Homo sapiens: one gene and its partner. The protein of the gene in region 2 interacts with the protein of the main gene of each other region in a pairwise test. Each region holds a gene or a part of one and is shown on either strand. Other genes may lie near its edges. The genes, in order: MECOM and PPP1R9A.

Region 1 (3,828 bases), on a different chromosome or scaffold from region 2:
TTTTAAGAAATTAAATTGAAGACAAAATGCAACAGTTATTGCTTTCATATGATGGCTGCCTTTAAGTGCAGAATGATTGTGCTTCTAAGTCAAAGCAATAATAATTAAAAAAAAAAACTCATGTCAAGGAGATTTTATAGACTTTCAGTCAAGCAAAACTCACCCAGAGCTTGGATTATCCCACATACATCCAAACAGGAAGTACCAAGTAAGGGTATATCTCTTTCTTTTACTACTAAAGGTTAAAGTGTATTGTTGCATATATCAAAGTGTTTGGTAATATTAAAGGTGCCTTCAATTGTGGGATGAATCACAACGTTACAGAGGCTGTAACATGCATTTTAATGGGAATAGAAGATGTGGGTGATATCTTTTCAAATTATTTTACCAGAATATATCGACCAGAGTCAGCTTTAAAAGTATATACAATTTAACCATACACCATAAATATACATCTAATTTAAACTGTTTGATACACTAATTAAAATCAAATAATGGAGAAGGTAGAAACATCAGATGTTTACTAGATATATTAGAATAATTTATAGCTACAAGCAATAACAATATTTTATTATTGGAATTATAAAAAGTAAGAAAGCAACACCTCTTAAAAGGCATTGAAAAAATGTCTTGATGAGTATTCAACCAAGACATAAGTTTTTCAAAGACTTGTCATTTTTTGGCAAGGAAATGTTGCTCTCTACACTTCTTTCTTACAATCAGATGGCTTAAAAAAAAAAAATCAAGAGCTTCTCTCTATTGGAGTAACAGAAGTTCAGCTGACTTTTCTGGTGGCACCCGTTGTTACATGGCTGAGTGCTGTCTGTGTCTGGGCTCAAGAACATCGAATCTGGGATGTTTTCTTAGGCAGAGGCTTTGTTTTCGGCACTTGAAGGCCTGGCCTGGCATACCACAAACTACCAGGCCTCCAGGTAAACTGGTTCAATTGATGTTGAAGTTTATACTCTACTGTAATTTTCTCAGTAATAAGGAATTAGCCAGCAGTTAACATTGCATTTTTCTACTTATTAAACAAATTAAGAGGCATTTTGAATATATTCAGCCTATTAGAGCATGTGGTTTCTATTTGGGAAAGCTGTAGGTTTCTGTAAAGGCAGTGAGTAATTACCTTAGCACTGGTGACTTTGGGCTCAAGCGTGGCAGCACACTGTAATAAGAGACAGTTGCCATAAACACACCAGTGGGGGTAAATCGTGGTGTGTGGCCTTCTGGTGAGAAACAGATATCAGCCCTAGGTGAACCTCCTCCACTCAAGTCTCCACACCATTTCCTGATCTTTAATCTCTTTTGTTCTGAAATTACATGGCTATTATTCATAATTACTCCATGGTTCTCTGGCAGATTTTAAATTTGAAGAATGCCATCTGCTATTTAAATTTACCAATAATTACTGAAAATACATTCAAGGGAAATACTTTATGCAATCTGATTGGAAAGGGACACCCTATGGCACTTTAAAGTGAAACACTTGTCTTCAACACAATTAAAATTCCAGATCCCAGAATCTTCGATAGCAGAAGTCTATATTTTCTGACTTTTATTTTAAATAATAGAGAAAGCATTAAATGAGTGATCAGAATTCCTTGTGGTTTATTCTAGTTTTTTCTCACATCAAAACATAATAAAACTTACCAAAATTTATTTCTGAGGAATCAGAAATAAATGAACTATTTAATATCGTATGCCTGTAGTACTTCCAAGTACATTTTCAGGGCATTAAGACTTAAGAGTCAGGAATGCCTTTTTGCGACAAGAAGTCTAAAATTTCTATTGAATGCTTTATTTCCCGTGACCTTCAATAGAGCTTCCCCAAGGGAGATGAGAGCACCCTTTTTTAATCTGCTAGTCCTCTTCACCCGGGGAACAGAAGAGCATATGAGCAAAACAGGACTCTAGTGTAAGCTGGAAAAGGAAAGAAAAGCTATTTTGGTGCTTGGACACACAAAAGAAAGCTGTGTCGAGGCAAAGGAGAGTTAGTCTCTGGCATCTCCATGTTGGCACTGAAAAATAGTTTTTTCCATCAGGTCCTGTAGTAGTGTCTCATATACCTACTACAAACCAAAGTCAGAGGTCTTGCCAAGTGCTGAGTATGCTTCAACCAATTCTATGTGTATCTGGGTCCAAAATCAGTCTTGACGTTTGTAGCACAACTCAATAAGTCATTGTATTTATATGCCCCGCCAAGCAATGGATTAAAAGAAGCCCAGATTTTTTGCCCAGGTAGACTAAGAACAACTGATTTTACTTATAAAATGTTTGAGCACAATACAGAGAATAGGAGTGGGCGGAGAGAAGAAAAAGCAAATGAGAGCTGAGTTTTATTGTATTTGAAGGATGTTACTACAGTGCTCTGTACAGGGATGTTCTAAGTAGGTGGTCAGATCAGATGTCCCCTAAAAGCACACTGCCTATAAACTTGCTTTGGTGCAGTGGGTAAGAGAAACAGCATGTCCAGCATCTAAGTGAAAATGTTCTGCTTTTCTTCAAGTAACAGAGAACTACAGATCCGACAGCCTGTGATCGGCAACAATGGGTAGATTAAAAAGCATTTCATCCCCCTCGCTCTCTCCACACACATATACTCACATACATGCACACAGAGCCGTAAGCCTACTTCCCAGGTGGGCTTCTTCCAGCTCTTTCTGATCCAGAACAGGTTTTTAATCACTTCATCTTGTTTAGTGATGGCTGCTATTTGCTGCTTTACAAAGCCATGAACATTTACAATATGAGACAAATCTGATTGTCCTGATTAAATCCTACAACCTGTGGAGGTTTCCCTTTGATTATCTAATGAATTTTCTTTTCTCTACCTGTTATTGATTTCTTCTGAAAGAAAACACCCCAGGAATCAAGGACAAAATACCATGGATCTGATTATAAAAGATTTACTTGTAATCATAAATAGCCCTACTGGATTGGACCATAAATAGCTAACACGGTGACCCTCTAAAGGCCATGTGCAGCCACTCTCCTGGTCACAGTGCCTTTTGGGGAAGAGACAGATGTGGGAAGGAGGGCTGGAGTGTTGAAAACTTACAGATAAAGGGCTTCACACTGCTGTGGATGTGCTTGTGTTGTTTGAGGCCCGACGAAGTGGCAAACGTTTTGCCACACTCCGGGCATGCATGGGCCCGGGCACCGACATGCTGAGAGCGAATGTGCCGCTGAAGGTTGCTAGGGTCCGTGAAAACCTGCTAGGAAATGAGTACTGATTAATCAAGAAACTTAACTCAAGGGCACAATAAAGAAGACCCGGGATGACTCAAGAAGAAATTTTTCTTATTTGTTTTGTTTTTCTTTTCCCCAAAGACCAAAAGTGTACTCTCCTCTAATTTCCAAAATGTACTCTCCTCTAGGGTAGGAACTGTAAATTATTCTGCTCTATATCCTTAGCATGGTGTATCCACTGGTATCAGTTGAACCAAATAATGAATGGCACTATTAGGCCATATTCAAGGCCTTTTTGATACCATTTAGAGTGACTTGAGTTGAATAATAAAATGCTGGTTAAGCCATTATTAAAACTGGTGTGCTATTTTCACCCTTTAAATAAAGACACATTGTGTACAAAAATTTGGAGGATTTTGACTAACTACATTAAATCTATTTAAAGAGTTTCCCTAGGGCGTAAAATTCTAACACTCTTTCAGTGAGTTACTAGCAAGCTAAAACCATTCCTTTAGACATTGTACTAAAAACAAAAATAAAAAAGCCACCCAACACATCTGAGAGCAAAACATCCCTAAAGAAATTTCAAATGTATTTTTTAATTTTTATGAGAAAAAAACATACAAAATTTTAATG
Region 2 (3,828 bases):
CTTTATGGGAATCTCTGCTCTGTTCCCAGCATCTCGTATCTTCCACTAGAAGTATTCCATATTTAGAGCCTCGGCAAGGCTTTTGAGTGTAACAGATTAAGGGAACTCCCTTGTAGCCCCATCTTGTATTTTAATAACAGTGTGATTTTTTTTTATCTGAAAATCTGAATTCAGAAATTATCTAAACTGGACATTTTTAATTCTGTTTTACCCCCAAGGCCTGTTTTCTTTTCATTGCCAGAGTATTGTCGGTTATGCGTCAGCTCTTTTGTCATTAGGTACAGACCCTTCATTCAATCCTCAGAAACGTTGACATGAAGTAACATTGTGTTTTACAGTTATCAAAGTCACCATTATGTTTTTCTGTCTGTCTTCATTAGGGGTATGATAATGAAACTGCCGTATTGGATACTCTATTAATGTCTTGAGATGTCTGGTGCTTTGTTATTTTTTCACATCATGAGAAATAAGAAGCCACTATTAATGAGTGATACAATTTGGCAAAACTTTTCAAATACTAAAACACTAAATTAGTAAAAATCTGGTAATATTAGTGCTTGCTATTGTAAATTTTTGCCATTTTTGCTTATCTTTGGGAAAAAAGTGACCTGGATCACACTGGAAGTTTCACTGTATTCAAGAGTAGAAATAGAAGGATGATTATCTTAAGTTATGTTTACACTTTGGTAATATTTGAAAATGGATGTATATACTGGAAATGTCTGTAAGTGTCTTGTTTTTGCACCTAATTTATGATCTATTATATTGCATTTTCTTAAATATCTTAGAAGTATTTTTCTTTATAACTTTGTATATTGAATGTTTAGATAAATGTCCAACTGACAATGTTATAAATCAAATTCTTATTCCTAAAATCATTTAGTATTATAAGTATTTTGATTTTTTAAGTTAAATTATAGTAATTTTAGGCCGAAGTGAGTTATTTTAACATTACCACTTAAAACGGATGAAATTGTAAAAGTCATTTGGTTTGATTGCCCCACAAAGCATAAGATGTAAACTGATTAAGGGTATGAAAGCAAAGTGAAAGACCTCAGATCTTGTGCACATTTTGTTTTCCTATTATTTCTTTTATTGACTGTAGTGCATGATACCTAATCAAGGCTCCAATGTCTTGCACAATTCCTACTTTAATGCTAGTGGTTTTCAGTGTCCTTACAATTTAACACAGAATTGTTATTTCATCAACCTTAAAAACTGCAGTTTTTATTATCAGAAAATGAACAAAAAGGGAATATCTGGTTGCTATGAACTGATTCCCTAAAGGAGAGCTCAGTATGATTCTAACAATAGCCAAAAGTGTTTTGGGGTATAGGTTATGCTTTGTTGGGAGGGAATGTGTGGTGAGGAGGCCAAGCTGCAGACAGAAAGCATTGTATGAGCTGTATCTGGGTCAGGGTTTCCCATTAAAGGATGTTAGTTTTATAACAGATTACTTTGTTTAAGACCATCTCCCTTCAAGTAACTCACAGTTTATGTAATACTAATCTCATTCTTTTTTTACCTGAATCAGGAATTTTCTGCAGAATGTTAAGTTAGGGAAGAAACCTCATTTCATCCATTCTAACACTCCTGATGAAGTCCCCCTTTAGTTTCATGACAATAAAGCTGTTCTGTGGCTATCATCCTTTAGCTGGGATTGACAATTGATTTCACACCCTCAACATCACAAGCTTTTTTTAACCCACAGCAGTTCATGATTGCAGTATGATAGGTACTAAAGCCAAACTCAGCTTTCAACTGGCACAAAATGGGACTGTCACCTTTTGCTCCATTGTTGTTGGAAACAAAGTGGCAAGAGGGAAAATGAGGAACCAGATTTACCTTTGCCACTATCTGTGACCCTGTAATCATCACTAGCCTGAAATCTTAAAATATCCCAGTCCCAAGCTACAAAAATGGTCACAGGTGGTTTGATCTAGCACCTCGGCCGTTAGAGTTTGTGCTGAAGACAAATTTGTCTGGGTTCATTGTGCACCAGAATTAGCATGTGCTTGAAAATTGCATTTTATAAAAGGGAAATGAAAATTTGCATTTATATAGATACTCTGATTCATGTTTAAGTGTTAAAGGTTATGCAGACTAAACTTCAAGAGGAGATCCAGTGTTTAACAATAGTGTTCTAGAGGATTCTAAAGGAAGCTGCCCCAGCAGCCCTGAGAGAACCATCTATACTTTGGATATGTTGTAGCCCCATCATTACACTGAGATATTTCCATTTGAGTAACTAAAGGTACTCCTGACAGAGCTGGAGATGAGGGGCATTTTGGTGGGCAGTGGTCACTAGGGTTCACGTCACCTACTTAATGCAAAGACCTTAGTGGTCTCAGAATGAAAAGGTAAAATGGAAGAGAAAAGCACAGTCCTTTCCTGTCTTTTCAAATTTACTTTTTATTAAGGATGTACCTGTGCACTATTCTAAAGCTAAGCATTTAAGGATAAAGTCCAGAAATAAAATGTCCATATTTTCTTTTCTTTTCTTTTTTTTTTTTTTTTTCTGTCATCTGTCACCCAGACTGGACTGCAGTGGTGCCATCATGTCTTACTGCAGCCTCAAACTCCTGGGCTCAAGTGGTCCTCCTGCTTCAGCTTCCCAAGTAGCTGGGACTACAGGCATGTGCCACCACCCCCAGCCAAAACATCCATATTTTCTATTAGAATGGTTTACATTATGATGGGGGATGGGGAGCTGGGGGAGGGCTGTACATTCCCAAAAGAAAGTAGTGTTATAGGAAATCCAAATGCGCTTCAGTGATTCACTCCTGAAAAGCAGCCTGGGTATGTTGGCAGATTTTGTTTGCATTTGTCTTGCGTATTTAAAGTCTCAGGAAATCTAGTCTTGGTCCAAAACACTGGAGAAAAAAATAACACCAGACAAAACACATTTGAGTAACTTGAAGTAGCAGCATAGAATAGGCCCAACTAAGAAGTTGGAGGGGCAAAGAGAAAGCCGACAGAATCAGCTTCTCCTGGAAAGTGAAAGCATCAAGTTCTATTTATGGTAGACAGAGGGTCCTTATTTGCTTGTCCGTGGTGTCTATGTGGGCCTATTGAGGGAATGGTAGTTACTTGAAGGTTCACATATGTAAGCGTGTGGACCCAGCACAGTCTGTGACCTGATTCCAGATCCTCAAGAGTGGAGAAGGAAAGAAATATGATGATTTCCTATGCTTGACCCTAACCCAACCCCAAAACTGCTAGGGATTCAACAGTGAGTAAGATGTATGCAATAAGAGAACAGATAACTTCTCAACAATGTGCATGCCGTTTGTGTAGATGTTCAGAACTACATATGTGTGAATATCACTCCCACCTTACACACGCACACACACTGCAATCACATGGCATTAAAAAATATATTGTGTATGGAACTTGGCGAGGTCAGTCAGGACCTGGAGCTGTAATCATAGCCTTATTGCCACTTCTTGCGTTGTGTATACATTGAATGGCTCATAGATTTTAAGAGATTTTTTTATTGTAAGTATTTCTACTAAATGCACTTATCCTTCTATATGTTTATATATTTTGGTAAAATTGATTTATCAGATACTTGGTATTTTAGTAAGAAAATTTCCTCAAATATTTGGCTAATGCTTTGATGTCAAGATTGCATATTGCTGAGTTGGAGCTCAGAAGAAATGTATGCAGCTAAAAATTGCACTGTGTGTTCTTGTGAATTTGCTCACAATTCTAAAATGACATAATTGGTGGCTGTGATGCTTACAGTCACTGCCTACTGGCTCTCTTATGATGAATGTTGCCATCATATGATCATTTATTTACTTTTTGTGCAAGCAATGGCATTTT

What was found.
Region 1: the proteins of PPP1R9A (region 2) and MECOM interact in a two-hybrid assay, tested with the Homo sapiens proteins (one study listed by BioGRID).

What each region holds. Positions count from the first base shown.
Region 1 is NC_000003.12:169,117,995-169,121,822, forward strand, and holds part of MECOM (histone-lysine N-methyltransferase MECOM), read right to left. Parts: intron 3,219-3,828; coding exon of another isoform or gene 3,216-3,218; coding exon 3,062-3,215; intron 1-3,061.
Region 2 is NC_000007.14:95,291,778-95,295,605, forward strand, and holds part of PPP1R9A (neurabin-1), read left to right. Parts: 3' UTR 1-3,828. UniProt on the Homo sapiens protein: Binds to actin filaments (F-actin) and shows cross-linking activity. Binds along the sides of the F-actin. May be involved in neurite formation. Inhibits protein phosphatase 1-alpha activity.